Regions from separate parts of the Homo sapiens genome. Here regions 2, 3 and 4 are each reported to be linked to region 1. Evidence: microRNA targets listed by miRTarBase, many of them from high-throughput screens and not tested one by one. Region 1 holds a microRNA gene; each other region holds the end of a gene's coding sequence.
What was found. The annotated mature microRNA hsa-miR-513a-3p reads UAAAUUUCACCUUUCUGAGAAGG and lies in region 1 at 2,508-2,530, shown strand. An mRNA with a match to its seed (bases 2 to 7 or 8) in the 3' UTR can be bound and repressed. Matches are read on the target gene's strand: a 7mer-m8 pairs with bases 2 to 8, a 7mer-A1 pairs with bases 2 to 7 and ends in A, and an 8mer does both.

Region 1 (7,126 bases):
GATTCTTCACCCCATTATAAATATAACAATGTTAACACATTTCCTCAGGCAGATAAAATACCAGGCAGAAACATGAATCACCACATAAAAATTCGAAACCCAGAAAATGGTAAAGATGAAGATATGGATGTGAAAGGGAAATATCTCAGTCCCAAAATCGCTAAGTTAAAGGGAAAATTCAAGCTGCCTCCCATTTTATTCAGAGTCATCCCTCTGCTCACAGAGATAAATGTTTATCTGATTGCCTTCTTTGGAAACCTTCATCAGTAAACTCAAAAGAATGCAACCATTTCTCTCTCATCTACCTGTGACCTGGAAGCCTCCTCCCTACTTTGAATTGTCCCACCTTTTTGGACCGGACCTAACCAACATTCATTTTACATATTTTGACTGATGTCTCATGTCTCCCTAAAATATTTAAAACCAAACTGTGCTCTGACCACCTTGGGCACACGCCCTCAGGACCTCCTGAGGCTGGGTAATGGGTGTGCATCCTCAACCTTGGAAAAATTAACTTCTGAAATTAACTGAGACCTGTCTCAAATGTTCAGGGTTCATAAACTAGTAAAATATTCTTTGAAGATAGATAGACTGTGATGAATTAAATATGAACACTGAAAACTCCAGAGCAACCGCTATTCTTTTAAAGTGACCAACTAATAAGCCAAGAGTGCAGAAAATATAACTGAATGATAAAAATACTAAATCTACCATCAGGCAGAAAAACAGGAAAATTAGGAATTACAAAAGGATGAAGTACAGAAAACAACTAGAAAGCCAGTAGATTTAAACGCATGTACATAAATAATTATAATAAATGATATAAATGCTTCAATTAAGAGAGACACTGTCAAATTATGTAAAAATAAGAAACAGCTGTACACTTTCTAAAACGAAACCATTTTAAATATGAAGACCTACGTGAAAGTTGGGTAAAAGGATGGAAAATATATTAATGCAAACAGTAAATATTAAAGCTAAAAAATCCTAGCACTATTAATTGTTAATCACACAGCGAGAGAGAGAGACTGAGCCCAAATAAATGTACTATAAAGAACCATGGAACTAAGAAAAATTAAATAGCATTTCTTGTCTTCCAGCCCATTATCTGTCTTGTCTGTCTCTCGTATTAATTTCTATGGGTTCTTCCCACTGCATAGCCTGAAGAAGAAATTAAATTTCTGCTCTCTCCAACCTGGTACTGTCTGACTCTTCTCTAGTAGTTTGGATCCAGGTGGTTGTATTCTGTGGTTTTTCCATTGGAATTAGGGTCTGTGCAGCACAGCTGGAGTTTTAGGACCATAGAGAGCTTTGGTGAGTGGTTGGCCCTGCCTACTTAACTGTAATTTTAAAAGTTTTTGGGGTTTTTTTGTTTGTTTGTTGTTTTTTTTTTGAGACAGGGTCTCACTCTGTAACCCGGGCTGGAGTATATTGGCACTATCTCCGCTCACTGCAACCTCTGCCTCCCAGGTTCAAGTGATCCTCCTGAGTAGCTGTGATTACAGGCGCGAGCCACCACACCCCGCTAAGTTTGTATTATTAGTAGAGATGGTGTTTGACCATGTTGGCCAGGGTGGTCTCAAACTCCTGGCCTTAAGTGATATGCACACCTGGACCACCCAAAGTACTGGGATTACAGGCATGAGCCACCATGCCCGGCCGACTCTGAAGATTTTTTTTTTTTTTTTTTAGATGGATTTTCACTTTTGTTGCCCAGGCTGGAGCACAACGGCACAACCTCGGCTCACTGCAACCTCTGTCTCCTGGGTTCAAATGATTCTCCTGCCTCAGCATCCAGATTAGCTGGGGTTACAGTCACCCACCACCACACCCGGCTGATTTTTTGTATTTGTAGTTGAGATGGAGTTTCACCACGTTGTCCAGGCTGGTCTCAAACTCCTGACCTCAGATGATCTACCAGCCTTGGCCTACCAAAGTGCTGGGATAACAGGCATGAGCCACTGTGCCTGGCCTGATTTTGAGGATTTTTAATGAGACAAGCAAATTAACGTGAAAACTAATGGGATAATTCAGACAAGGATTACTCGCCTTTGGGGAAGAGATGAAGTGAAAAGCTCTATTCTTGATCAGTCTAAAAATCTGCGTGTTAATTAGCCATTCGAGGTGGTGTGTGCCTTTAACCTAAGCTACTCGGGAGGCTGAGGCAGGAGAAGTGCTTGAACCCAGGAAGCGGAGGTTGCAGTGAGCTGAGATCACGCCAATGCATGCCAGACTGGGTGACAGAGCCAGACTTCATCTGAAAACAAAAACAAAACAAAAATCTGCATGTCAAAATCTCACTCGGGGCAGGATGAAAAGGGGAGTGCTGGGGGTTACAAGTTGCATTGTCCCTTGGCATAAATCTTGGTGGCCATGCGAAGGCATACACCTATAGGGACTTGAATAAAAACAGCATGAAAAGGGAGCATTTGGTCTGGGATGCCACATTCAGCCATTCAGCGTACAGTGCCTTTCACAGGGAGGTGTCATTTATGTGAACTAAAATATAAATTTCACCTTTCTGAGAAGGGTAATGTACAGCATGCACTGCATATGTGGTGTCCCTGAGGATGGGGGTGTAGCTGCGAGCATGGTGATGCCTGTTTTGCATCCTGTGCACCCACTCCTCAGTGCTGGGCTACACTTCAAGGAACTTTTTGTGCCTTCTAGACGACTGTACATAGGAATTGTGGACTCCTGAGAAAACGCATGCACTTAGGTTCCTTAAGAATTTATTTTTGCCAAATGAGGCTTGGCTCAAATAGGAAATACATTGGATAGAGGCCACAGCCATTCTTCGTCAGCTGGAATGCTTTACTCCAGATTCCTAAATTCTCTAAACTTTTTTCACTTATCAACTAGTCATCATTTGCAAGGATTCTCCTTTAGCGCTCCCAAAAGACTCTCCTGCCTCTCAGGTCCCTTCATTGCTGATCCACAGCGTCCATTTTCTGTCAAAGACTAAAACATTTTCTCATTGACTTTTAAAATACCTTTCAAAGCCTTAAGTCACCAATTTATGAAGGATTAAGCATAGTCCACCCAAGAATATTTCACTCTTTTTCATTATCTTTTTTCCCCGTTTTTTAAGAATATGTATGAACAATGGAAGGGTATGATGGAATTGATACTCAAGAGATATCTCCTAGTCTTCTCTCCCCATTTTCTTTGTGTGTGTGTGTGTGTGACAGAGTCTTGCTCTTTCGCCCAGGCTGGAGTGCAGCGGTGTGATCTGGGCTCACTGCAACCTCTATCTATCTCCCAGGTTCAAGGGATTCTCCTTCCTCAGCCTCCCGAGTAGTTGGGATTACAGGTGTGCCCCAACACACCTGGCTACTTTTTGTATTTTTAGTAGAGATGGGGTTTCACCATGTTGATGAGGCTGGTCTCGAACTGCTGACCTCCTGATCCACCCACCTAAGCCTCCCAAATGGCTGAGATCACAGGCGTGAGCCACCACGCCTGGTCCCATTTTCTTGTGTTGACACTTCTTAACTCTTAACCTAATGGAGAGAGATAGAGGGAAATACACACACACACAAACACACAAAAAAAGAGAGAGAGGGCAAAAGAGTAAGACAAGTGCCGGATGGTGTGAGGCCATCTGCAGCATGAAACTAGTATGCATTTTTGAGAAGTAGGTTATAAATAAGCTACTTATATTGCAGAAATGTGTTAAAAATGTTATAAATAGTAAGTTATTAATACAAATTTGATTCCAATGGAAATAGAGGTTATAGCATATACATCAAAAGGGAGAAAGTATAAAAAACAATTACTATATGGTTACAGGCAGGATTTTAGTTTGTTTTGTTACGTTCAGAATGGATGAATATGTTTAAGACCATTAATGTCTGGAAGTAAAAAAACAATCAGTTGAAGTATCTTTTTCAATATTAAAACAATTGCTCTAATAGATTACATAGCATCTTTTTCATTGGGGGCGGGGGAACATTCTGAACAGTAAAAAAATTCTGTCAGTTGGAAATGCTGTATGTACATAGAAATTTCCAAAGTGATAACACTTTTTAGTATATAATTTCTAAAACTGTATTATAGTGAATGCATGTGTACTTATATAATTTTAAGTCATATCCTAAAACGAAAGAAGAGAATTTAGTTAGTATCATATCTCTTTTATGATTTCTCAAAAGAGTACTCTATTCACTGTTATTTGTGGTTTTTCTTTCAGTGAAATACTTTTTTGTATCATTCATCCGTGTTTCTACCAATTTATTAAGGTTTAACTGACATAACTTTTGTATATATTTAAGGTGTACAACATGATGTTTGGATATATGTATATATTATACAATGATTAAATCCACCTAATTAAAACATAAAATAATATAAACATAACATATTTAGGTGAAACTCTAAATACAAATTATAGGATCTCTGTGGTATGCAGAATAACAGTCCCCCTCCAAAAGATGTTTACAGAGCAACCCCTGAACTCAAAAACATCACATTTTATGGTAGAAGGAAATTTGCAGATATGACTAAATATTTTGAGATTGGGATTATCCTAGATTATCTAGGTGAGTCCAACATAATCACAAGGGTTCTTATAAGTAGAAGGAAGGTGGTTAGAATAAGAGAAACATTGGAAAATGCTACAGTATTCAATAGAGGTGGAGGTAAAGTCCATGAGCCAAAGAATGATCTTCTAAAGACAATCAAGTAGATTCTCCTCTGGAGCCAACAGAAGGAACAAAGCCCTGCCAATGCCTTCATTTTAGCTGAGATAAACCTAATTTAGATTTCTGACCTTTAGACTCTAATATATTTGTGTTGTGTAAACAACTAAATTTGTGGCAGTTTGTTACAGTTATCAATTAAAAACCAAAAATATCTGTATGCTAAGAGTGCAAGTAAACACACTTAAAAAGTAAATAATTATTAAGTGGAGAGGAGTATCATATTTACGGATTGAAGGATTCAAATCTATAGATTTATAGAGTCTTATTGATCTATAGAGTTAATGCAATTCCAGCCAATGTCCCAGAAAAATATTTGTAGACATTAGCATGATGATTCCAAAGCTAATATAAAAGGTGAATAAACTAGAATATGCAAAACAATCTGAAAGAGAATCTCAAACTTGGAGAATCTACACTGGTAATTTCCAGATTTACTCTGTAACTAGTTTAGCCAATGTAGTGTGAGCCTCAAGAAAGGATGGATGAATAGAAATAGAAGGACCAGAATTACCCATACATGTCACCAATTCATTTTGACTAAATTGTAAAGTCAATCTAATGAAGAAATGATAGTATTTAAACAATATGATGCTGGGAAAATGTGATACACATATGAAAAACATGAACTTTGATCCATATTTCAAACCATATACAGAAATTAACACACTCTTAGGCCAAAATGTCAAGCTATAAAATTCTATGAAAAAAAAATGACAGAAAATATTTTTGACCATTAAATTATATATGATATCAAAATATAAACATAAAATTGATTAAAAATAAGTTGATAAAATAGACTTTGAAAAAATTAAAATTGGTCTTCAAAGAAGACCATTGAGATAATAAAAGTCAATCTATAGAAGACTAAAAATATATGTTATTTAATAATATGGTAAATAACATTTAATATATAATGTAATAACATATATCAGCATAAATACATATAATTTAGCACTCCTGTGTATACTAAGAATTTTACCAGTTTTAAAAAATTATCTGTGTTTTTCAATAAAATGTCAGTTCTGTTAGCATGTGTTGAGGATGTTTTGATCTGTATTGTAGTCCCTGCACATGAAAAAAATCGCATTTAATGCATTCATTCTGGACCTTCCTTGCTATACTGTAATCTGTCACATCGTTAATGTGAATATATCTGTTTATCCTCATAATTTATAATAAGTTAACATTTATTATGGTTAGTAGTCAGGAACATGGAAAGGCAAGAAGTGTAACTGAACAGGCTGAGTATATATAGATTTAGGGAGTCAAAAGAGGAAAAATAACTGCCAAAAACAAATTTTACACTTTTCCAAGTTATTCTTATCAGAATTCTGCCAAAGAAAAATACATTTTTGTTGATATCTTTTTTTTTCTGACCATGAGCATAATTCCTATTTATTGCAGAATAACTTGGAAAACACATAAAAGGTATGAAAAACTTGAATAGCAGTAATGAAATAATACCATAATACCAGTAACATCATAATGTGGATATAATACTTGATAAAATTTATAGGTGGATCTTTCCACATATTTATCTGTATTTATACTTAGGTTTTAGGTTGAGGTCAACAATTTTGTGCCATTCTCTTATAAATGATTTCAAATAATGCATCATGAATATTTTGTAAAAACATGCAGTAGCCTAGTAAATAATTTTGAAACATAATTTTACATGCCATGTTTCATTCTAGCATACAATTTTTTTTCTGATTTTTGACTTGCTTTTATAGCATTTTAAATATTTGAAATGTTTTCTAAGTGTTTTCTACTTTCTCTCAGATTTACTAACATATTCCACTTTAAATAGTCATTGTTTTCCACTATTTAATTCCACCCCCATGATCCAATCACCTCCCACCAGGCCTTACCTCCAACATTGGGGAACAATCCAACCTGACATTGGGGTGGGGACACAGATCCAAACCTTATAATTCTGCTCTGGCCCCTCCCAAATCTCATGTCCTTCTTACGTTGCAAAATACAATCCCAACAGTCCCCCAAGCATTAACCTAATTGAAGCATTAACCTAAAAGTCCACAATCCAAAGTCTCATCTGAGACAAGGCTAATCCCTTCTGCCCATCAGCATGTAAAATAAAAAAAAAAGTTAATTACTTCTAAAATACAATGGAGGCATAAGTTTTGGGTAAATACTTGGGAGAAATCAGCAATAGAAAGGGGCTACAGGTCCTGTGCAAGTCTGAAACTCAGCAGGGAAGTCATTAAATCTTAAAGCTCCAAAATGATTTCCTTCGATTTCATGTCCCACATCCAGGGCACACTGCTGCAAGGGTTGGGCTCCCAAAGCCTTGGGCAGCTCCAACCCTGTGACTTTACATGGTTTAGCCCCCAGTGGGCTGCCACTGAGTGCTTACGCGTTTTCCAGGCCTAACTACAAGCGGTCAGTGGATCTATGATTCT
Region 2 (7,126 bases), not on the chromosome of region 1:
CATATTAGATGGTGATATTTTAGAGATCAAAAACTTTATTCTTTTATAAATTCTTTATTACTCTAGCATTTAGAATGACTTAGCACAGAGTCGTAAAAAAATTATTGAATCAAATATGACAATAATTATACAGGAAGACATTAAATAAGTCCTGCTACAGTTTCCATTTTAACAAAATTAGTACATGTTTAAAAATGTGATTGGGCTGTGGGTTAGATTTTCTATCCCAGGAACTTTGTTCAGAATCACTTGAACTTACAGTTATAGATACAGTTTAGGTTACATTTGGTTTATATAATTTGAGAAATGATGTTTTCAATATTTTTAATAATGTGGCCTTTCTTTGCTTCATGAAAGTAACCATCAAGAAGCAATATTGCTTCTCTGTCACTCCCCTCCGTTAGAATATTTGTAACTTAGAGACAGTAAATAGCAGGTGAGGCCAGACTGGTAAAAGTCTTAACTATCTCCACATTTTCTTTGTTGACTCAACTTTTGATTATCTGGATTGGGGAGATTTTCAGATTGCTACCGGTATTAATATGTACATTTTTGTTTTTATTCTGTTTAACCATGGCCTTCTGACCCTTACAAAGGAATGTAATATGCTATCTAGAAAATCAGGCTTCTAATTAGCCTGGATTTATCCAGTGCTATAAATACCCACTGGCCTACACTGTCAGGTTTCTTCTCCTGAGGGGGAAAAATAAAAGAATAATGTAGTAATGTAGTAAACAAATACATCCTAAGGTGGGCCATGTGACATTTTGACAAGTGTGCAGTTATTAAGGATTATTAATTATCAAGTTTTAATAAACTTTTTCCCTTTTTCTTTTAGCTCCTGGTATTATTGCCTGCACATTCTTGGTATCTTAGTATTATTGTTGTTGCCAGTGAAAAAAACTCAAAGAAGAAAGAATACACATGAAAACATTCAGCTCTCACAATCCAAAAAGTTTGATGAAGGAGAAAATTCTTTGGGACAGAACAGTTTTTCTACAACAAACAATGTTTGCAATCAGAATCAAGAAATAGCCTCGAGACATTCATCACTAAAGCAGTGATCGGGAAGGCTCTGAGGGCTGTTTTTTTTTTTTGATGTTAACAGAAACCAATCTTAGCACCTTTTCAAGGGGTTTGAGTTTGTTGGAAAAGCAGTTAACTGGGGGGAAATGGACAGTTATAGATAAGGAATTTCCTGTACACCAGATTGGAAATGGAGTGAAACAAGCCCTCCCATGCCATGTCTCCGTGGGCCACGCCTTATGTAAGAATATTTCCATATTTCAGTGGGCACTCCCAACCTCAGCACTTGTCCGTAGGGTCACACGCGTGCCCTGTTGCTGAATGTATGTTGCGTATCCCAAGGCACTGAAGAGGTGGAAAAATAATCGTGTCAATCTGGATGATAGAGAGAAATTAACTTTTCCAAATGAATGTCTTGCCTTAAACCCTCTATTTCCTAAAATATTGTTCCTAAATGGTATTTTCAAGTGTAATATTGTGAGAACGCTACTGCAGTAGTTGATGTTGTGTGCTGTAAAGGATTTTAGGAGGAATTTGAAACAGGATATTTAAGAGTGTGGATATTTTTAAAATGCAATAAACATCTCAGTATTTGAAGGGTTTTCTTAAAGTATGTCAAATGACTACAATCCATAGTGAAACTGTAAACAGTAATGGACGCCAAATTATAGGTAGCTGATTTTGCTGGAGAGTTTAATTACCTTGTGCAGTCAAAGAGCGCTTCCAGAAGGAATCTCTTAAAACATAATGAGAGGTTTGGTAATGTGATATTTTAAGCTTATTCTTTTTCTTAAAAGAGAGAGGTGACGAAGGAAGGCAGGAATGAAGAAGCACTGCGTGGCCTCCGGTGGAATGCACGGGGCACAGCCGCGACTCTGCAGGCAGCTTCCCCCCCATGCCAGGGCTCTGCGCCGTCATGTGAGACTTAAAAAAAAAGTTGAATGACTTCGTGATACTTTGGACTTCTAAATTAAATTTATCAGGCATAAATTATGTAGAATTAGAGGCTTTGAAAATAATACTGGTAGGTTGCTCAAAGGTTTTGAAAGAGAAATCGCTAGGTAGGTTACTATCTGGCTAATCCATTTCTTATCCTTGACAATTTAATTCATATTTGGGAAACTTTTAGGGAAATGAAAAATAAAAGTCACTGAGTCTGGGTGACATTTTTTAAGAATAATATAAATTCAGTTTCAAACTCTTCTCACATTAAAATTTTGCTGTGAACTCTTACTAAAATGAGTTTTAGGTTCTGTAAGTGGAAAAATGTGCTTTTATTTTATGGGCCATTTTTACCACAACTAATCTTGCCTTGGATTACTAAGCATCTCCTGCGATCCCACAGAGGACTGTGGTGGCCACAGGAGCTGAAAGCAGAAGAGTGGGATTTGATGCCAGGCAGTGGAGTGGCCTCAGCCCCAGATTGTACCTCCTGCCCTGTAGGAGGGGAGGGGGCAAAGCCTTCTGACTTCACCTTTGTTTGACCTATGTATGGAACTTACTTTTACTTTTTGCCTTAAATTTTTAATGAAATGCAAATTTTCTGTGATGGGGTTCTCTCTCTCTTTTTTTCGGGGGGTGGAGTCACTAATAAATTTGCAAATGAAGTTAAAGACAAGGCAACCATCTGGCTTATGCTATATAATACTTCATTTAAAGAAGAAAGGAAAAGCAAATGCACTTGCAGCTTTTGAGGTCTCAGCAAAAATGGGCATGTGTCTTTTTTGAAGTTTAGAAATATCCTAATCTATTTTTATTTATCTAAAAGTAAGTGTTTTCCGGCTGATAAGGCTAACCCTACCCAGGAAAGGATTGATAACTAAATAAATTTCCTCTGTTTTCCCATGCATTGAAATTATGTTGGCTGAGCATGGTGGCTCACACCTGTAATCCTAGCACTTTGGGAGGCCGAGGTGGGCGGATCACTTGAGGTCAGGAGTTGGAGACCAGCCTGGCCAACGTGGTGAATCCCCGTCTCTACTGAAAACACAAAAATTAGACGGGCATGGTGGCGCACACCTGTAATCCCAGCTACTTGGGAGGCTGAGGCAGGAGAATTGCTTGAACCTGGGAGGTGGAGGTTGCAGTGAGCTAAAATTGTGCCACTGCACTCCAGCCTGGGTGACAGAGGAAGACTCCGTCTCACAAAAAAAAAAAAAGAAAAAAGAAATTATGCCAGCTGTTTAATGTGAGAGAATAGAAAGAATGTTCATGGAATGTACCTGCCCTGTAAAATGTTTGATCATTTTCATTAATGTTGCAGAGAATCCGACTGCTATTAAGAGAAAGTGAACAAATTAAGAATTTAAAAGACAGGTTCAGGCATGTCATAAGTGAAAACAAGAAGGCTTAATACAAACTTGTTGGGTTTTGTTCGTGTGTGTGTGTGTGTGTGTGTGTGTGTTTTTTTTTGGTTCAGCCTATCTAGCCACCTACAAATAATCACATTTCTGTTACCTGAATTTATTTCTCAGCCTGTAAACCTTAGTCACTGTTACCTGTTTCTTGCTCAGTGAATATGATCTTGGCACTGTCATCTAGAAAGCAAGATATTTGATTGGTTTTCTGGTTCCTTCGAAGATAATAATTCCATATCCAGTTTGACTGATTTTCATACCCCTGAATCAACTAGTTATTTTCATGAAATGGTTTTTGGATATCTCTCCTCTAGTTTGGAGAAGTAATAATCACAAAGATTAATATTTTGCTTCTAGTACTTACAGTAGAAGAATTTTAAACTGGTACGTCTACTCCTGTTAAATAGAAAGGGGATTCGTTGTATTATGTGCTTGCTTTTTTTTAATCAATAGAATAAGATTCAATGCATATTTATGTTTTATATTTTCCACTATTCAGGTATCATGAAATCACTCTAGAGATGATCAATCAACATCATATTTATACTTTTGGTTAATTATATACTACTCAGGGAAAAAATGAACAAAAATAACTACTCATCCTTCAATTTCATTTTCTTGAAACAGTAAGAGTATAATTTGGTATGCCTCAGCTGTCACCATTTTATAAGTGGCTCATTCTGTTCTTAAAGTAAGTATTTTTATTGGAACTCAGGGTAATTGGGGGAATTTATTTAGCTTCTAAAATATCCGGCAGGATAGAGAAGATTTATTTGGCTTCAAAAATGTCTGGTGACCACTTCTCTTATTAGCCACTACTGCCCATTTGCTTCAAAAATATATTTATTGGTCTCCACCATGTGTGACACACACAGGATTTCCAAACATACCACTTTTGAGAAAAATGTGCAGTAAAAAGGAGGTTTCTAGAAAGTGACAGTAACTCACATTTAAGCACTAGCTGACCTAGGAGGAGACCTGGATCTTCATTCTGGTTCTGCCTTTCATGAGACTTAAGACTTGGAGGAGCCACCTGTCCTGTAGACCCCAAGTTCCTCAGCCATAAGCAAACGGGTTAATCCTAAGAGTTCAGGACCAGTTGGGTGTCGTGAACGGAGCCATTAGCAAGGTCTGTAGGATTCAAGGACTTGGGCACATTCACAGTCCACACTATTGTCATGGTCATTGACTTACTACTTGAGCTCAAAGCCCTGACATTTCAAAAGGTTGTCATGATAACAGTGAAACCTCTGAATCCCTTAAATCAGAAGGCATGGCAACATACTTTTTCTACTGGCAATAGCTCTTACAATGAGTGTTTCATAATGAAATAGTCTCTGCTGAAGAAAACATGTTTTCCTTTTGCTCTCTCTGCTTTGTTGGTTTCTGTGCTGTGTGGAATTGGAGAAGATATATGCTCTGAAATATTTTATACAGATTACTGACTACTGGACAGGGTTTACCACTATATAACATCTCAAAGTTATTCAAGGATATTTAAAGCATATTTAGTTTAGTTACACCTTATTTTAAACCGCAGAAAACAATAGCTTTAAAATTTTTGCCATTAAAATAATTATAAATTTATACTTTTACTCAAGGACTAGATCACAGTTTTAGGACAAAAATCTCTCCTATTTAAAGTTCATACCTTGTAAGTATTTAGTTTGTATATTCATGAACAAATCTGGACATTTATACTTTTTTTGTTTCCTTATCAACTGTTCACAATTATTAGTTAATTGGTCTTAACAGTTCTACATTATAATTGAAAGAAAAATTACTTGAGAAAATAATTGTTTCAGAATAGTGCCTACTATATCTGTGTCAGCTAAAAATTTGTCCAGAGTTTTAGATATAAGCTAGTATTTTGTGGAGTTTTATCCAGGCGTTAATAGTTCTTCCTGGCTGAAATTTAATATAGGTGCAGAATCCTAAATAACACTGTGAGATGTAATCTTAACTGCCCTCAATACCTTATAAAACTGCTGCATTTAACCCAGTGTGCATTTAATGAGTGGCTGGTCGTTGATACACTCATCTTAGATGCTGAAATTTCTGTTTTCTCCAGCCCTTGTAAAAGTGGGTTTCTTGATGAACGCGTGCTCCCAATGCTGAAGCAAAAGATTTGCATTTAAGGAGAGAAATACACCCTGAAATTTGAGTTTGAAAGATTAGAACATAGAGGGTCTCTACAGTGTTTTTCTGCAACACCAAGTAGTCAAATCTATTTATAGAAACTCTGATTACAACAGAAATTTTAAAATGAAATTTTCCACATCGGTATTTTGTAGGAAAGCTCTTATAATCAATGCTTAAGCTGCTTTTTGAGGCTTTTCTTGTACAGAGGTTGCAGCCAATTACATTTTAATTGGTAGGCTGCTGAATAATGTTTTTGTATGTTTTAAAATAATATTTATTTTAATAGGTTTTTTAACATTATGCAAATCCCAATAAAGAACTGACACGTTCCATAGGCCATTGACTGGGAAATTTTGTGAAACACAGCCTAAATACACAGTTTTTACACCAACTAATTTGTCTTGCCTTTAAAACTGATTATAACTCTTCTTTAAGTACAACTTTTATAAAGAAAAAATACAACACTAAGACTGTATGTTCTGTAAATTATAGTGTGATGACCCATGCAGAACCGCTGTCTGAAGCTTACTCAGCGATTCATAGCCATCTCCAGCCATGTTTTATCAAATCACACACTAAAAATAAATGGAAATGCTACAGTGAAAAACCAAAAGTTACAGAGCAACATAAGTAAAATGACTAGGCAGTTTCTTAGTAACATGTTTGAAATGGGAAAGGTGACTGACTGCCTTTCACCAGAGTCTTAGCTGTTTCACGTTCACTATTTTAGGTTAATTTTCTTGGGAAATCAATTTGAATATTCCCCCCTGTCCTTTTGCATTAAAGGACGAAAATATATGTTGAGAGTTTGACAGACTTTTTAAATATGCCTCTTTCCCAATTTTATGTATTTTTGGTTCTGCGCACACAGATTTATCAATGAAGTACATTTGCCTCTGGCTTTATCACAAGGAAAAAGGAATCAAACATTGAACACAAATGTGTTCCAAACCAGTCTTGTCCATCTTGTCACTTTTATGTGACTGCTCCTCTGAACCAGAAGGGGCACGATAGAAGGCCATAGGAATGAAAGTAAATCATTCAGGTGAAGTGAGAAATTCTTCCATATACAGAGTGAAAATGTGTGATTTCATTCCTGCCTTCCTTTAAACGTTGTCTTGATCTCTGCCTAGTAGTAGTTGAGCCCTCAGTCGCCCAAACATGAGGAGAGACCCAACTCCAGCAGCCAGAATTTAGTATTTACATTTGCCTTCCCAAGTTGAGAATAGAATGTGGTGTTCTGTGCTTTCTGTTTTTATTATTCCAAAATATTTTTTTAAAGAAGTGTTATTTTTCAACAGATTCATAAATTAGTTCCTGATGTACGGTAAATTAAAACTCCCACTGTGTCAGTCAAACTGAGATGTGCTCATTTCATAACCACTCATTTCTAGTCTGTCAGAGCTGCACTGGTGGCTTATTGCTGGTTTTTAAAGGTGTTTTTAACTTACATGTAACATGTTTAGGACATGTTTTTTTTTTCTAATTTGTGTGTCTTTACAACTGATTAAACAGTAGTTTAAAAATATGCGTGTGTGTGTTTGCTAATATCTTAGGCTTTTAATTCCACTTATAGAACAATACTGGCCCTGTTACGAGAG
Region 3 (7,126 bases), not on the chromosome of region 1:
GATTTTTTTTCAGTACTTTAACCACCACCCCCGATGGAGGCATCTATTTCCAAAGCTTCAAATCTTTTCTTAATTTGGAACCCAACACCTTTTCTCCCCCTACCCCTCACACGAGGAAGTTCCACAGATTTTTTAAAATAAAAAACCAGGTCCTGTTATATAAAAGTACATTAATTATATTAACCAAAAGTTGTTTTTTTTTTTTTTTAACAGACAAGCCTACTATCCCCAGAGAAGTCTTTGAAAATAGTGGAATCCTTGTTACAGATGTAAATAACTTTATAGAAAACATAGAAAAAATAGCAGCTCCATTTAGGAGTAGCTATTGGTAAGAACACTTTTTATGTAACTTTCCCATGTGAGTTGGAGTTGTTGATGGCAAATATTGACATTTGTGTCTAAGGGAAACAGTTGGGAAACTGTTGTTTACATACTTCATGCTATAAATTTAAAGTGTTTGTTTAGGGGTGGAATTGCTATTTGGCATAAATAGGAATTCCTAAATTATCACTAAATGAAGTAACCATCTACTAAAATTACCTATTTTATCTAATGTGCATTTTCACTTGCTGTTAACTTGGATCGTCAGTACAGAACATAATGTAACCTTAGAATGCATAGGCGTTTTCCCCATTAGAGCATCCCGCTTATAAAATATTTCTTGTTCGTATTATTTTAAGAAGTTCTTTATCAATTTTGTGTTTCTTCAGGTGACTCAACTACAGCCTGCCTGGATATGGATGATGCCAATAAAAAATTAGTATTTTCCCTTTGGAAAACTTGTGAACATGTGAATACACATGTGAACAGTCTTACATTTGAAAAACCAATGTTCTACAACTTGGAAAGTTTTCATTTTTTATATTTTGCTGAAATATGTCACAGTGGCATTGCAGTTGTCTGTTAGCTTTGGGTTGCAGTGCTAGATATTGTTTTAAATTATTTTCATTTTAAACAAGATGCCTTCTAAGCTATTGAGCTTATTAAAAATAATTTTACATGTTTACTTAGTTGGAGCAAAAATAAGTCTATTTTAACAAATAGCTTTGTTTTTGCATGCTAATGTCAGAAAGGCATACGATGCACATTATGCTCTGTTTTAAAGGTTTTACCACCCTTGTAAAAACTATAATCTTAAATGGTTTTATTTGCTGTTACACAAACAACACTACATAAAACATTTTTTCCTAAATGGTACAAATTTATAAACTATCATTTTTCACTTACGGTATTTGTAAATACTACACTACAAAAATCAGCTTTCTGAGAAAGAAATAATCATTTATTTATGATATTGAAAATTTCTACAGTAAACACTCAAAACCAAGCAAAAAACATTTGTAAGATACACGGTATCTATTTGGAGCAACGGTTTTTGTAACTAATGTGTTTCATTTTTTAAATAAAGACAACTAAAAATAATCTCTTTCTGCAATGATTTTTATAGCAGAAATTGACTTATCTGGAGTGTTCTAGCAATTTTTAGGTCATTTAGCAGAACAGTAAGCTTCCAGAGGAAACCTACACTTCTATCCTTTGGGCCTGGCCTGTTCTGTTTCTGGGTTCTTTCCGCAGTCAAGTACACCGAGTAACAGGTTAAAGAATGGCAGTTTCACCTGGCCTTTACAGGGACACTTACTTCTTTCAGAAGTCATTAAGTCGGCTTTTATTATTCCTAAACAAAAGAGCTTTATTTTCTCATGAGTAGGTTTTAGAGTTTTAATTGTTGACAATTTTTCAGTTACTAATAGAACCCCAGTCATTTCATTTTATTTTTCCAAGGACAAGAGTCTATTAAGGGAACCATTAACTATTCAGTACAGTGAATTACTTTCAGATTACTAAGGAAAAGGAAAGTGAGCAGTTATAAGATGCCAAACACCTATCTATCTGCCTGAAATATGCACCTTTCAGGTTGGACCTAATAACATTCACCTCCCCTTGCTGAAAAGCCTTCCAACACCCACGAGGCCATCTCAGTTTCCATGCTACCTTTTCTGTAACTCTACTAATAACCAAACCACATCATGTGTTCACCAAACTGAGTTATCCCAGTAACTACCATTATCATCTTTGTCTCCACTGGCCTGGCACACAAGGTATTCAGTAAATACGTTGAATGAAGAATATGAAGATGCGTGGTTTTTCTTTTTTCACTTATTACTAACCCAGCTTGGGCCTTTGCATGGGAAGAGAAAAAGGCTTGCTGGGACTTCAGATAATTTTATCATACAGGTAAAGCAGTGGTTCTCAACATCTGGAGACATTTTTGGTTGTCATTCCAAGATGGTGCTGTTGCCATCTAGTGTGTGGAGGCCAGGGATGCTGCTACAATCAACCCTATCAACAGAGAATGATCCAGCCCAAAACATCAACTGAAGTCGAGAAGCTCCATCATTTTGGCAATATGAATAACAATCTAAATCACCACCCTAGTTCCTTTAACACATCATCTACCTTAGTCTGTCTCCTTCATACTCTGAAGAGTCAGTGTTTATCTGTGGTAAACAACAGCATCTGCCGTGAGGCTCATCACTGTCAGGGGAAAGGGCCTTATATGTAAACACTTTATCATTTCAACTACACAAAAATTATTTACTAAAGCACCTACTCTACCTGACAGTTCACTTACTCCCTTATAACTGCTGCTACAAGCAAAATCATTAAACACTATTTTTTCTGCACAAAGATGATAGGTCTAGTAATGGTACTGTGTCAAGAATAAAACTCGAGGTCTACTCACAGGGAAGCCAGACGACAGGACCTGCTGTGATCCTTCCAGATCAGAAGACACCCACGCTTTCCGCTGCTGAGCATTCTGACTGGCATTGACTCCAGTGCTACCAAAGGAAGCACGGCAGCTGTGACCCTTGCAATCAGGACACACAAACCAACACCGGGCAGTAGTTTCCAGAATTTGGCTTTATTTTGCAGTACAGAAATCATTTGGAGCCATTTTGAGACAGAAGTAGAGGCTCTGTCAAGTCAATACTGCATTGCAGCTTGGTCCACTGAAGAAGCCACGCCTGAGATACAAAAGATGCACTACACTTGACCCGCTTTATGTTCGCTTCCTCTCCCCTTCTCTCTCATCAACTTTATTAGGTTAAAACACCACATACAGGCTTTCTCCAAATGACTCCCTATGTCTGGGGTTTGGTTAGAATTTTATGCCCACATAAACCAAACTTGTGGCTATGCTATTTGGGCCCTGCCATAACATTTGACATAATACAAAATATAAAGTCATAGGGAAAACTTCCGGATGCTGTCCCAAACCGTGGAATATTCAATTTAGAATCTCCTGAACCTCAAGAGGACAGATGACACACAACCTGTATGGATCCAGCTCTTGAGCAGCAGCAGCACATAGCTACACTGATTAAAAGATTAAAAAAACTGTCTCAAGTTGTCTGTGTCGGTATCCCAATGTTTGTTTAACTTCACTAGAAAAAAAAAAAGCCAGTTTGGTTAAATTGAACAGAATGTGGTAACTGCCAATGCTGAATAGCCACTCCATGAAAACAAGTTAATAATTAGAAAGGTGAAGGGGAGTATTTACTGGCACAGCGCTCTTCATTCTCTCCATTTTCATTACAAAAGCAGGCCTTACAATATTGATTTCATTATATGCATTATTTGCCAAATTTTAAATGTGTCCTAATTACATAATAACATGTACTGCTGTTAGTCTTCCCCATAGATGTCATTCTTCTTGCGCTTCATTTCCTCAAAGTCAAACTCTGATCCTGTCATCCTCTTATAGATGTTTTTAATGTCATCACACGTTGTCTCAAAATGAGTGGTGGCATCATATGTGCGGGAAATAAAGATCTGAAAACAAAAATTACGAAGACTTAAGACCATGGAGGGATGTCTTCCAGTGAAACCTGCCCATATCCTTTCACACTTCCATACTCACCTGGCTTTCTGTTCCCAAGTCTTTTGGTACCAGGAGGTCACTGATGCTAACAAATCTGGAGGGAGAGAGAATTCAGTCAGGTGAGCTGGTCCCACACCTGACCATGGCTCTGCCTGAGGTCAACTGAGAGGTACAGATGAATCCCACAGAGCAGCCAGCAGCTACCTGCCTTGCCCTCACATTCGTCCCACCATGGAGCCACAATCAAAGGCCTCAGTTTGCATCTCGGCAGATATAAAAGAACACAACTCACTTCTGTTCAATTGGTTCCAAGAGCTCCAAAGCTGGTCTGATTTCCTTCTCAGGCTCCTTGGTTTCCACAGTTGTACTAACTATAGCAATGTACTTCCCTTGTGCTGCTACATTGTGCGCAAAGGAGATCATGCAGACGTAGATATCTAGAAACAAATGATACCAGCTCACTGCCTCAAGTGTCTCCATCTGGGACCCAACATACTCAGGTATCACCCATATGTCATGAGGTGTGAGTTAAAATTACTCTCAATAGGCAAGATCTTCTACACTTAAGTTCTAAATGGTGACAGAGTTGGATGTAAAGTACACAGATATTTAACAATAGGAATTTCTTTTAACCTACTAGAGATTAAGAATTGAAGTGGTAGCGAACTGCTGAAGTTTGGAATGAGATCTCTTAACAGCTCTGTCATACCTAACTAAAAAACCTGCCAAACCATATTAACTATTCTGGGAGATTCTTCCATTCTGGACCTTGCATTTAGAAAGGTTCTGAATGGCTAAGAAAGGATGTACTTAGTACTGACGTCCTCATTTACTTATTACAGTAATGTAAAACTGCAGAATCCACATAAACCACTTTTGAGTTGGCATAACGATAGAATTCTCGATTAGACTTGGTCTGTATACCACTCATCCAGTTAACTGTGTCATTTCCAGGATAGAAAATCATTTGGATAGGAGAGCATTTAAAGGCCAAAAAAAAAAAACTCTGGGACCTCCTTTATTCTTTTCAGACTTGCAAGGACCCAGGACCCGCCTGGGAACCTTGTGGAAGATTAAGTCCAGTCCCTTTGTTCTACAGATCATCTTTTGTGATTGGTTTTTTTTTGTGTTTTAACAGTCTGGCTCTGTCACCCAGGTTGGAGACAGGGATGCAATCACAGCTTACAGTAACCTCAAACTCCTGAGCTCAAGTGATCCTCTCCCACCGCAGCCTCCCAAGTAGCTAGGACTACAGGTGTGTGCCACCACACCTAGCCATTTTTGTTTGTTTGTTTTTTGTTTTTGTAGAGACGAGCTCTCACTATGTTACCCAGGCTGGTCTTGAACCCCTGGCCTCAAGCAAGCCTCCTGCCTTGGCCTCCCATGATTTCATTTCTTATATGGGGGAAAAAAAATCATTATACAGATAGCTCTTACCTGTCCCATAAAGCCTGATTACCCTTTTTAAGCTGAATTTTAGATAAATAAAAAGATTTGGGGCTTCTAGTTGAAAGGAAAATGGGAACATCGAAGGGTTACAAACAACTGGCTAAGACAAATAAGTTAGGACTTGCAATTTTAGAGCCATGTCCTGATCACAGAAATGAAAGGTGGACACTGCTAGAATCAAATGTAGGTACTAGGATTACAAATAAGGACACAGAAGCAGCTATGTCATTAGCTCAAGAATATACTCGGGTCAGTTAACTATTAAGCATAAACCTCCACAGGAACCTACTGTTAGTTAGAGCTGGGAGACGCAGGGTTCACCAAGCCCAGTCTGTTCATTCTACAGGTGATGGACACAAGTCCAAGGCTGGCTCCGAGTTGAATCTGTCCGCGTTGACACAATGCTGCCGGAGCAGGAGGAGGTACAAAGATTTTTTTCCCCCATATGTAAACCAAGGTCTGTTCACTAATACAGCATACAAAATTAGGAATTTGGGATAAAACACAAAGCAAATTATATCTTACAAAATTCTACCAACATCTGCTGGTCTTCAAACCTCACCTGACTTTCGATTGACTTGGTTCTGTGGAATAATGATCTGGCAGGAGTTGGCATCATTGGTGTTCTTGATGGGGTGGCTGAGGATGCAAATAACTCTGATCACCTGGCCCACTTTTTCTACCCGATCTTTTACGTAGCTGGGGTCACAGATGAGCTGCTTACAGCGAGCAATCTATAACAAAGCATTTAAGAAGACACTGAAGCGGACAAGGATATAGGGAAACACATCCCATGTTCATAGTTTGGAAGACTTAGTATTGTTAAGATATCAAAAACCATCCTCAAGTTCATATTGGTTCCCAAGGGATTGAATTCTGGAACAACCAAAACAATCTTAAAAGAAGAACAGCAAAGCTGGAGGACTCACTCACTAAAAAGCTACAGTGATCAATTCAGTGTGGTACTGGCATAATGACAAACGTATGGACCAATGAAACGAGGAGAGAGCCAGAAATAAACCCTCGCATCCACAGTACAGTGATTTTTGACAAAGTTGCAAAGACCATTCAATGAGGGGAAAAAAAGTCATTTCAACAAACCGTCCTGGGAAAACTATCCACATGCAAAAGAATGAAGTTGGACCCTACCTGACACCATCCACAAAAACTAAAAATGGAACAAAGACCTAAATGTGGTATCTAAAACTATAAAACTCTTAGGAGAAAACAGTGCAAAAGCTTCATGACATTGGAGTTGGCAGTAATTCCTTGTATCTAAAACCAAAGACACAGGCAACAAAGGAAAGAATTCATGAAAACAGGATTTCATGAAAATTTTAAAAATCTTGTGCATAGCCAGGCATGGTGGCATGTGCCTGTAACCCCAGCTACTTGGGAGGCTGAGGCAGGAGAATTGCTTGAGCCCAAGACTTTGAGTCCAGCTTGGGCAACACACAGCAAGACACTGTCTCTTTTAAAAAAACAATAAAGAAATTTTTGCATCAGAAGACACTAATCAAGAGTTGAGGCAACTCACAGAATGAGAGAAAATATCTGCAAATAAGGGATTAATATCCACAATACATCAAGAACTCCTAAAACAACAACAAAAAAAACCCTGATTCAAAAATGATCAAAGGGCTGGGCGCGGTGGCTCACGTCTGTAATCCCAGCACTTCGGGAGGCCAAGACAGGCGGATCACCAGAGGTCAGGAGTTGGAGACCAGCCTGACCAACATGGAGATACCTCGTCTCTACTAAAAATACAAAATTAGCTGGGCACGGTGGCGCATG
Region 4 (7,126 bases), not on the chromosome of region 1:
AAGCCACAGTGGGACACTACCTCACACCCACTAGAATGGTTACAAATAAGGACTGACGATACTAAGTGTTAGTGAACATGCGGGAAAAATGGAATTCTCATCATTGGGAGCAGGAGGGTAAAATGGTACAACCCTTTGGAAAATAGTTTCACAGTGTTTTATAAAATTAAACGTATACATATATATCTCTTCCCTATGACCCAGCAAATCTAATAGATATTTACCAACGAGAAATAACAACATATAGCCACACAAAGACTTGTATACAAATGTTTGTAGCAACTTTATTCATAATAATCCCACGCTGGAAATAACACAAATATTCATCAGCAAATACATAAACCAACTGTGGTATATTACAATGAAATACTATTCAGCAATGAAAACAAAAAGCTACAGACACAGGCAACAGCAAATATCTCTAAACATGTTAAGCTAAAGAAACTAAACACAAGAGTATATACTATCTGATTTAATTTATATGAAATTCTAAATCAGGGAAGAAAACTAACCTTCCAGTAACAGAAGGTGGATCAGTGGTGACCTAGGGCTGGGGAGAATGACTGCAAACGGAGAGGAAATTTATTCTGGTAAGAAAATGTTCTTTACTTTGATTGGGGGTGGTGGTTACATGGGTGTACACGTTCATCAAAGATCATTGAACTCTACAGTAAAAATGGCTACACTTAATTATAGTAAATTATAATTTCATTAAGTTGATCAGAAAGAAAAAACGTCCCAATGAAGCGACAGACAAAAGTCACCACACCAGTGTCTGTCTTAATATTTGAATATGCACTAAATTTCTAGGTTTCTATTTGTTTCATACCACATGTCAGGGGGGCAAGTTTACATCTAAATAAATGGCTTAATGAGTTAAATTATAATAGAGGAAGATATTTTTATATATATATACTTTTTTATTTTTAGAGATAGGGTCTTGCTCTGTCACCCAGCGTGGAGTGCAGTAGTGCAATTATAGCTCATTGCAGCCTAAAAGAGGAAGATATAACAAAATTATTCAAGAAATGAATAAAAGCCTATGGTATGAGTGCTTTCCAACTGAGTGATTAACTTTTGATATGCTATTTTGTCTTTGTTTGAATCGTGAGTTGTGAAGTGTTTAGAAAAATCTGTCAAGTACACAAGTCTGCTTTTTTGGTAGTTGGATCAAAATATTAAATCTCTTATCAAATGTTTAAGAAAATGTGATTAATAAAATATGTAAATGGTATTAAATGTTCAGGATAATTGGAATTTACAAATTGTTAAAGAAATGGGAATGTAATTTCTCATTTTTATCAAATTTACTGTTCTTATATCTTCAAGTTGAGCTTAGAGATTTAAAAATGCTGTATTTTAAATGTATTTTAATAAAGCAAATATTAAAACAAGTATTTATAAGTATTTTTCTTCCCATACCAAAAGCCTGCTTTGACAGTAAAGCTTGTTGACACATGGTTCAAACACTTCCTTCCTGCCTTTAAAAAATTTATTCTGCTTTTCAAGGAAGGTATGTTTCTATTTTATCTACAAACCTTGTAGACTGGCCTTATGGTTTTAGCAATATAAAAACACACAAAGTGATGCATTTTTTAAATGAAATTATTTAACAACACAATGTATTTTACCACTCTTACAAAGATAACTTACAGTAAATAATGTTAACGATGTTAGTTTTACTTATACGATTTTTCTGTGTACCCTCTATCTCTACTTCACCTCAATGTCTTTCACCCTCCAATTTTAAGGTGAAAATATCTAGGCTTCTGCCCTCTGCAACTGATTTCTATTGAGGGCCTATGGAGGTAAAATGACAATAATCATTGAATCTAGAAAGAAAAAGCATCAAGCACAATTTACATGAACAATAGTTTCAGTTGACATTTAACTGAATGCTTCTAACTTATTTAATCTTATTAGATAGGCAGTGTTTTAATCAATTTACAGATGGAGAAACCAGGGATGGTGCAACTTGCAAGTGGCAGAGCCCTGTTTATCTCCAAAGTTCCTGTTCCTCTGAGATGAAGTTATAGATTAACCTAAGTTTGTCCTTTCTTGATGTAACCAACTAATATCTTTGAGGATCTTTTTTCTTTTACCCAGAGTGCTGTGTTAAGTGCTGAGTATACAGATTCATTCAACCCTCTAACCAGTCCTTGTAGTACTGATTCATCTGTGGTCAAAATCTGGGGTACTGGTGGGTTTTGTTTCCAAAGGGTTATGACTTTGAGTGACTAAAAAAAGATAGTTTATCCTTGATGTAGGGACCATCTTTGATTTCTCATTACTTCCCCTTTTGACCCCTCCAAAGCACTTAGCAAATGTCAGCTAATGAATAAATGATAAAAAAATGGTTGGCCAAAAAGACAGCATCAGAAGAGAATTTTTACCTAGTGCAGTGCTTAGCACCTATCAGGGATTTATTAAACATATATGGAAGAGAATGACATTTCTGCCATTTTATTAATAAATTCAACAAAGTATTTATTGAACTTTAACCATGGCTTGGGCATTTGTTAAGGATGAGTGGTTTAATACAATGATGATTCAGACACGGTCTCTACTTCCAAGGAATCTGGCATCTCAAATAGGTAAGACACACATAAAAGTAATAGGTGATAGCAGTAAGTGCTGAAATAAGACTGTCATTCAAGTGTTGTGAATTTGAAGAAGTTGGGAAGATCAGGAATGCAAATTTCTTCCCCCTTGTCTTAGTCCATTTGTACTGCCTTAACAAAGTATCTTCAACTGGGTAATCTATAAATAATAGAAATTTATTTTCTTACAGCTCTGGAGGCTGGGAAGTCACGGTTAAGCACCAGTTGGTTTGGTGTCTGCTGAGTCCCCAGTTGCTGCTTTCAAGATGGTACCTTGTTGCTGGGTCCTCACGTTAGAAGGGACAGAAGGGGCTGGGCATGGTGGCTCACACCTATAATCCCAGCACTTTGGGAGGCCGAGGCAGGCAGATCATGAGGTCAGGAGATCAAGACCATCCTGGCTAACACGGTGAAACCCCATCTCTACTAAAAATATAAAAAATTAGCCGGGCGTGGTGGTGGCGGGCACCTGTAGTCCCAGCTACTCGGGAGGCTGAGGCAGGAGAATGGCGTGAACCCGGGAGGTGGAGCTTGCAGTGAACCAAGATCACGCCACTGCACTCCAGCCTGGGGCAACAGAGCAAGACTCCATCTCAAAAAAAAAAAAAAAAAAAGGGACAGGAGACAGAAGGGCTGAACAGCTGCCTCACACCTCTTTTTAAGTCATTAATCCCAGAGCCCTCATGACTTAATCACTTCCTCAAGGCCCCACCTCTACATACTATCTCACTGGCAAATACATTTCCACATTTGAATTTTGGAGGACACATTCAGACCACTGCACCCCTCAAGTTGGTTAGTGTCTTTGAATATCTTTTTTCATGCTGTGACAATCTCATGGTTTCAAACTTTTCTTCTATCTGTGTTAATCCCAAATATCTTTGTTCTCAGTCATCTCCCTAGTTTCCATCTTTCTCCCAGACCTCCTCTCTACATAAATAACCTGCATGCACTGTAAAATCCATGTATCAAAAAACTGAACTTGTGTAATTCTCTTCCAAATCTGTCCCCAGCTTCTAGAAGATGGGAGGAAAACATGATACAAGGGTATAAGGAAATTCACTCAGTACTGCAGAGACAGCATGGAAGACAAAGACTCAGTCTCTGTGTTTCTGAAAGGTCTTCTCGAACCATATCCACCCACTTCTCAATTTCTACCACAAAAGTAGAAAACGTAACCTTGATTTTCACTTTCTGTCCTGTAACTATAAAAGTCATCTGTAGAAGGTAATTTGGGTCCTCACTTCCATAAATATTCTCTGACTTCCTCTAATAGAAAGTAGGAGAATGTGGCAGTACTGTATATTACAATGTTAGGACTACTTAACATAACGCTGCTTTAAAAGACCAGAATTTGAGACGGGTGAAAGGGCAGGGGCAAGTTTGATTATTCCTAACATCTATGAGGAAGCCTCTGTCTTCCCCATAGGAAGCTGTCCTTTCTTCTCTATTAGTTATATAGGAATAAGAATCTAGAGGAAGCTTTAAACATTCATATTGGAGTTAAGAATTAAAGACACTGAGATGATTAGTGTGTGGATAACCTGAAATACTTTATGGCTCATTCACCATTTCAACATCAACAAGAGGAGAACACCACAAATACGGCAAACTGTCTAGCTGCTCAAGAAAATGGTGCCCCCTTCCTCCCAGGCACACAGCTGGACACATTTCCCAAAATCTCTCTAGGTGGGCCATGTGACGGAGTTCTGTCCAAAGGAACATGGGCGGAAGAGATATGCACCACTTCCAGGCCTGACCCAGAAACATTTTCCACACAGACTTTTCCTTCTTTTCCTATGTGCTCTTTCAACAAAGAGGGCTCTATGGACTGAGAGAAAGGCAGAGCCCCAAGAGGAAGGAGCCTGGGTCGCAGAAAGACTAGGTGGAAAGCTGTCCACTGACCACAAACATCCACATGGGACATCATATGAGAGAGAAATAAACCTGGGAATAGTTACTTAACTTCTTTGGGTCCTAGTCTCTGGGCAAAGAGGAAAAGCTCAATAAATATCAGCTGACATTATATTAGGAAATAAAGTTTACTTCTCCTTAATTTCTTTTTCTTAGGCAAGGCGGAGCACCGGGGGTGAGTGGGATTGGTGAAAAGCACTAAATGACATTTGCCTATTACAAAATGCTAATTGGTACATTTAAATAAGATGACATTGTGACAATAACTCACAGATTAAAGACATTTTCTTCTGGATCCCAGACATTAGATTTTAAGACTGATTTCTTGCTAAAAACACTCAAATCTAGTTAAAATGTGAAATATAAACAGAATGTGGTACCCACTTCTTTCCCCCTGTGACACTGAGTGTCCGGGGATGTTCTAAAACACAATTAACAATCCACATCATTTCTGTGGCTTCAAATTGGCACAAAATCTGTACAAAGAATACTTTGTGCTGCTATAATACTCAACTGATACAGTTTAATTATGATCAACTTTTATTGATTTTACATAAATAGCTTATAGAATGCCTTTACAAACTATGTTTTTGCAATATATTTGTTACAACACACATTTCCTTATGAATGTATTTGTTAAATCTTTTTGCAGAGGAAGTAGGGAAAAGTGAGGGGAGAAGAGGAGGAATAAGATTTTAGAACTAATCGTCAGCAATGGGCCTAGGTATTTGGCAATTATTTCCTTTACAAAAAAATTACAGGTTTGTAACTTCAAACATCAAAAGTGTAGTGCATCAATTTAACTAAAAAATCAGTAGTGCCTAATATATTATCTGGGCATCAAATTTCTTTTTTTAAATATATCCAGATTCACATATTTTTACTCTTATTAAATAATGGTTTTAAATAATAATCATCACAATGTTTAGCTACATAATCCCAGATCTGGATTAAATCATGGTGATATCGATATTTTTAAATTCCAATTTATTTGTTAATCAGTAAAATGTAATAGGTGATAGTGTGTCCAGAGAATGAGCCTCCTATGTGTAGGAAGACGATAGTCTTATTACACCTGCTATCAATTAGGTCATTTACATAGCTGCTAATGTATCAGAATTTTTTTCCACACTGATGTAGTACTTTATTCAAGTCAAAACAAGTTATCATTATCATACCAACGTTGAAGAATTAACCATTCCTGAAACAAGAAACAATCTTTACATTAGTATTTCTTGGTTATGGTGCTTAGTCTTGGTATTATTAAGCACAATGATTCTTAATAAACATGGGTGGATGAAGGCAAATGCATATAGCCTAGTCCCCTCAATAATTTATTCTCCATCTTATTTAAAATTGTTGTTGAGGCTATACAAACTACAGATCTGCTGCTAGAAAGATACAAGTTGTCCCCCGAACAACATCTGGCATTTTAAGCATAAGATTAAAGTCCTGGTGTTCACAGCATCTTCTTCTGACCTACCACTAGGATCATTCCTCAGCAGTGCCCACGATGCTGATTTCCAAATGATACCATTTACTATGTATCTTGACTGTATGGATATTATTTTTTCCTTATTAAAAAAAAGAAATACGATGATATTTCCTTCTTTGTCCTTACTTAAGAATAACTGGGCAATAATCTATTCAGTCTTTGTAAACTCTCCATTGAATAATTTTTCATTCTTACAGCCATTTCCTGAATGGCTGCTGCGCTTTCCCTCTGTCATCTCCTTCACATAACTGAGCGGTCCCTTCCCCTCAAAGGATGAAGGATTTTTGAATGAGCCGCCAATCCTATCCCACAAAGTGAAATATTGTCCATAATTATAGTCAAAGAACATATGGTGGTCTGTATGATGAGCTGAGCCATTAATAAATGGCTGTAAGATTTGGGGGACACGAAAATCACCGTCATGAATGGAAATTGTCCAGATATTAACCAAGATGTACAGACTTAAATAAACCACCTTGTGTAATGGAAAGATAAAAGGGTATATATGGTAAGGTAGACTCTGAAGAAAGCCATCAATAGGGTGAAAAGCATGACTTGCAAATGGAGTAGGAATCTTCCAAATATGGTGAGGTTTATGTAGGCGCTGCAGGAGAAAAGGACACAATTAGCACTGCAAACTTTACCCCGTGCAACATTCAACTTAGCTTCTCACACTCATGTTGGAAACAACCTAACAAATCCTGTAGAGATCAGCAAAATTATTTATTCTATAAAATGTCCTTCTTCGCCCTAAAACAGTATAATTTTATATGGATTTATGAGTACAAGTGCAGTGGTGTTCCATGGATATACTGCACAGTGGTGAAGTCTGGCTTTTAGTGTACCTAGCACCTGAAGAGTGCACATTGTACCCAATAGGGAGCGTCTCATCCCTCACTCCTCTCCCATCCTCCCACCTTCTGGAGTCTCTAATGTCTATTGTTCCCTCTGTAAGTCCATGTGTACCTGTTACCGGAACAGACGAATTTTAAGACAGCCCCTTAGACCCATAAAGAAGAATATGAACAAAATGCACCCTGTACCTGTTATGATTATGGCTACTTAGACATTTAATATGGGTAGAGGAAATTCTTGGAAATAGAGAACAGAATTTATA

Region 2: the mRNA of MBOAT2 is a reported target of hsa-miR-513a-3p. Seed matches in the 3' UTR shown: 7mer-A1 at 1,999-2,005, 7mer-A1 at 4,964-4,970, 8mer at 5,294-5,301, 7mer-m8 at 5,435-5,441, 7mer-m8 at 5,539-5,545, 7mer-m8 at 5,638-5,644 and 2 more.
Region 3: the mRNA of TASOR2 is a reported target of hsa-miR-513a-3p. Seed matches in the 3' UTR shown: 7mer-A1 at 1,199-1,205.
Region 4: the mRNA of SC5D is a reported target of hsa-miR-513a-3p. Seed matches in the 3' UTR shown: 7mer-m8 at 5,357-5,363, 7mer-m8 at 2,696-2,702 and 8mer at 800-807.

Annotation. Positions count from the first base shown.
Region 1 is chrX:147,208,902-147,216,027 of GRCh38, reverse strand. MIR513A1 (microRNA 513a-1) reads left to right here and starts at 2,437; the gene lies at 2,437-2,565. The region is part of intron 1 of LOC105373347 (periphilin-1); the gene reads right to left.
Region 2 is chr2:8,852,617-8,859,742 of GRCh38, reverse strand. It overlaps MBOAT2 (membrane bound glycerophospholipid O-acyltransferase 2), which reads left to right. Exons shown (of 13, transcript NM_138799.4): 13 at 839-7,053. The coding sequence ends at 1,064. Among named protein-coding and RNA genes, the nearest start is that of KIDINS220, 19 kb to the right of the region's middle. RefSeq lists a silencer at 4,390-4,684 and an enhancer at 4,274-4,825.
Region 3 is chr10:5,762,319-5,769,444 of GRCh38, forward strand. It overlaps TASOR2 (transcription activation suppressor family member 2), which reads left to right. Exons shown (of 22, transcript NM_001321783.2): 21 at 214-328; 22 at 711-1,422. The coding sequence ends at 714. It overlaps GDI2 (GDP dissociation inhibitor 2), which reads right to left. Exons shown (of 11, transcript NM_001494.4): 8 at 5,895-6,066; 9 at 4,176-4,320; 10 at 3,923-3,977; 11 at 2,905-3,834. The coding sequence ends at 3,688. Among named protein-coding and RNA genes, the nearest start is that of GDI2, 48 kb to the right of the region's middle.
Region 4 is chr11:121,306,544-121,313,669 of GRCh38, reverse strand. SC5D (sterol-C5-desaturase) reads right to left here. Exons shown (of 5, transcript NM_006918.5): 5 at 260-6,613. The coding sequence ends at 6,158. Among named protein-coding and RNA genes, the nearest start is that of SC5D, 17 kb to the right of the region's middle.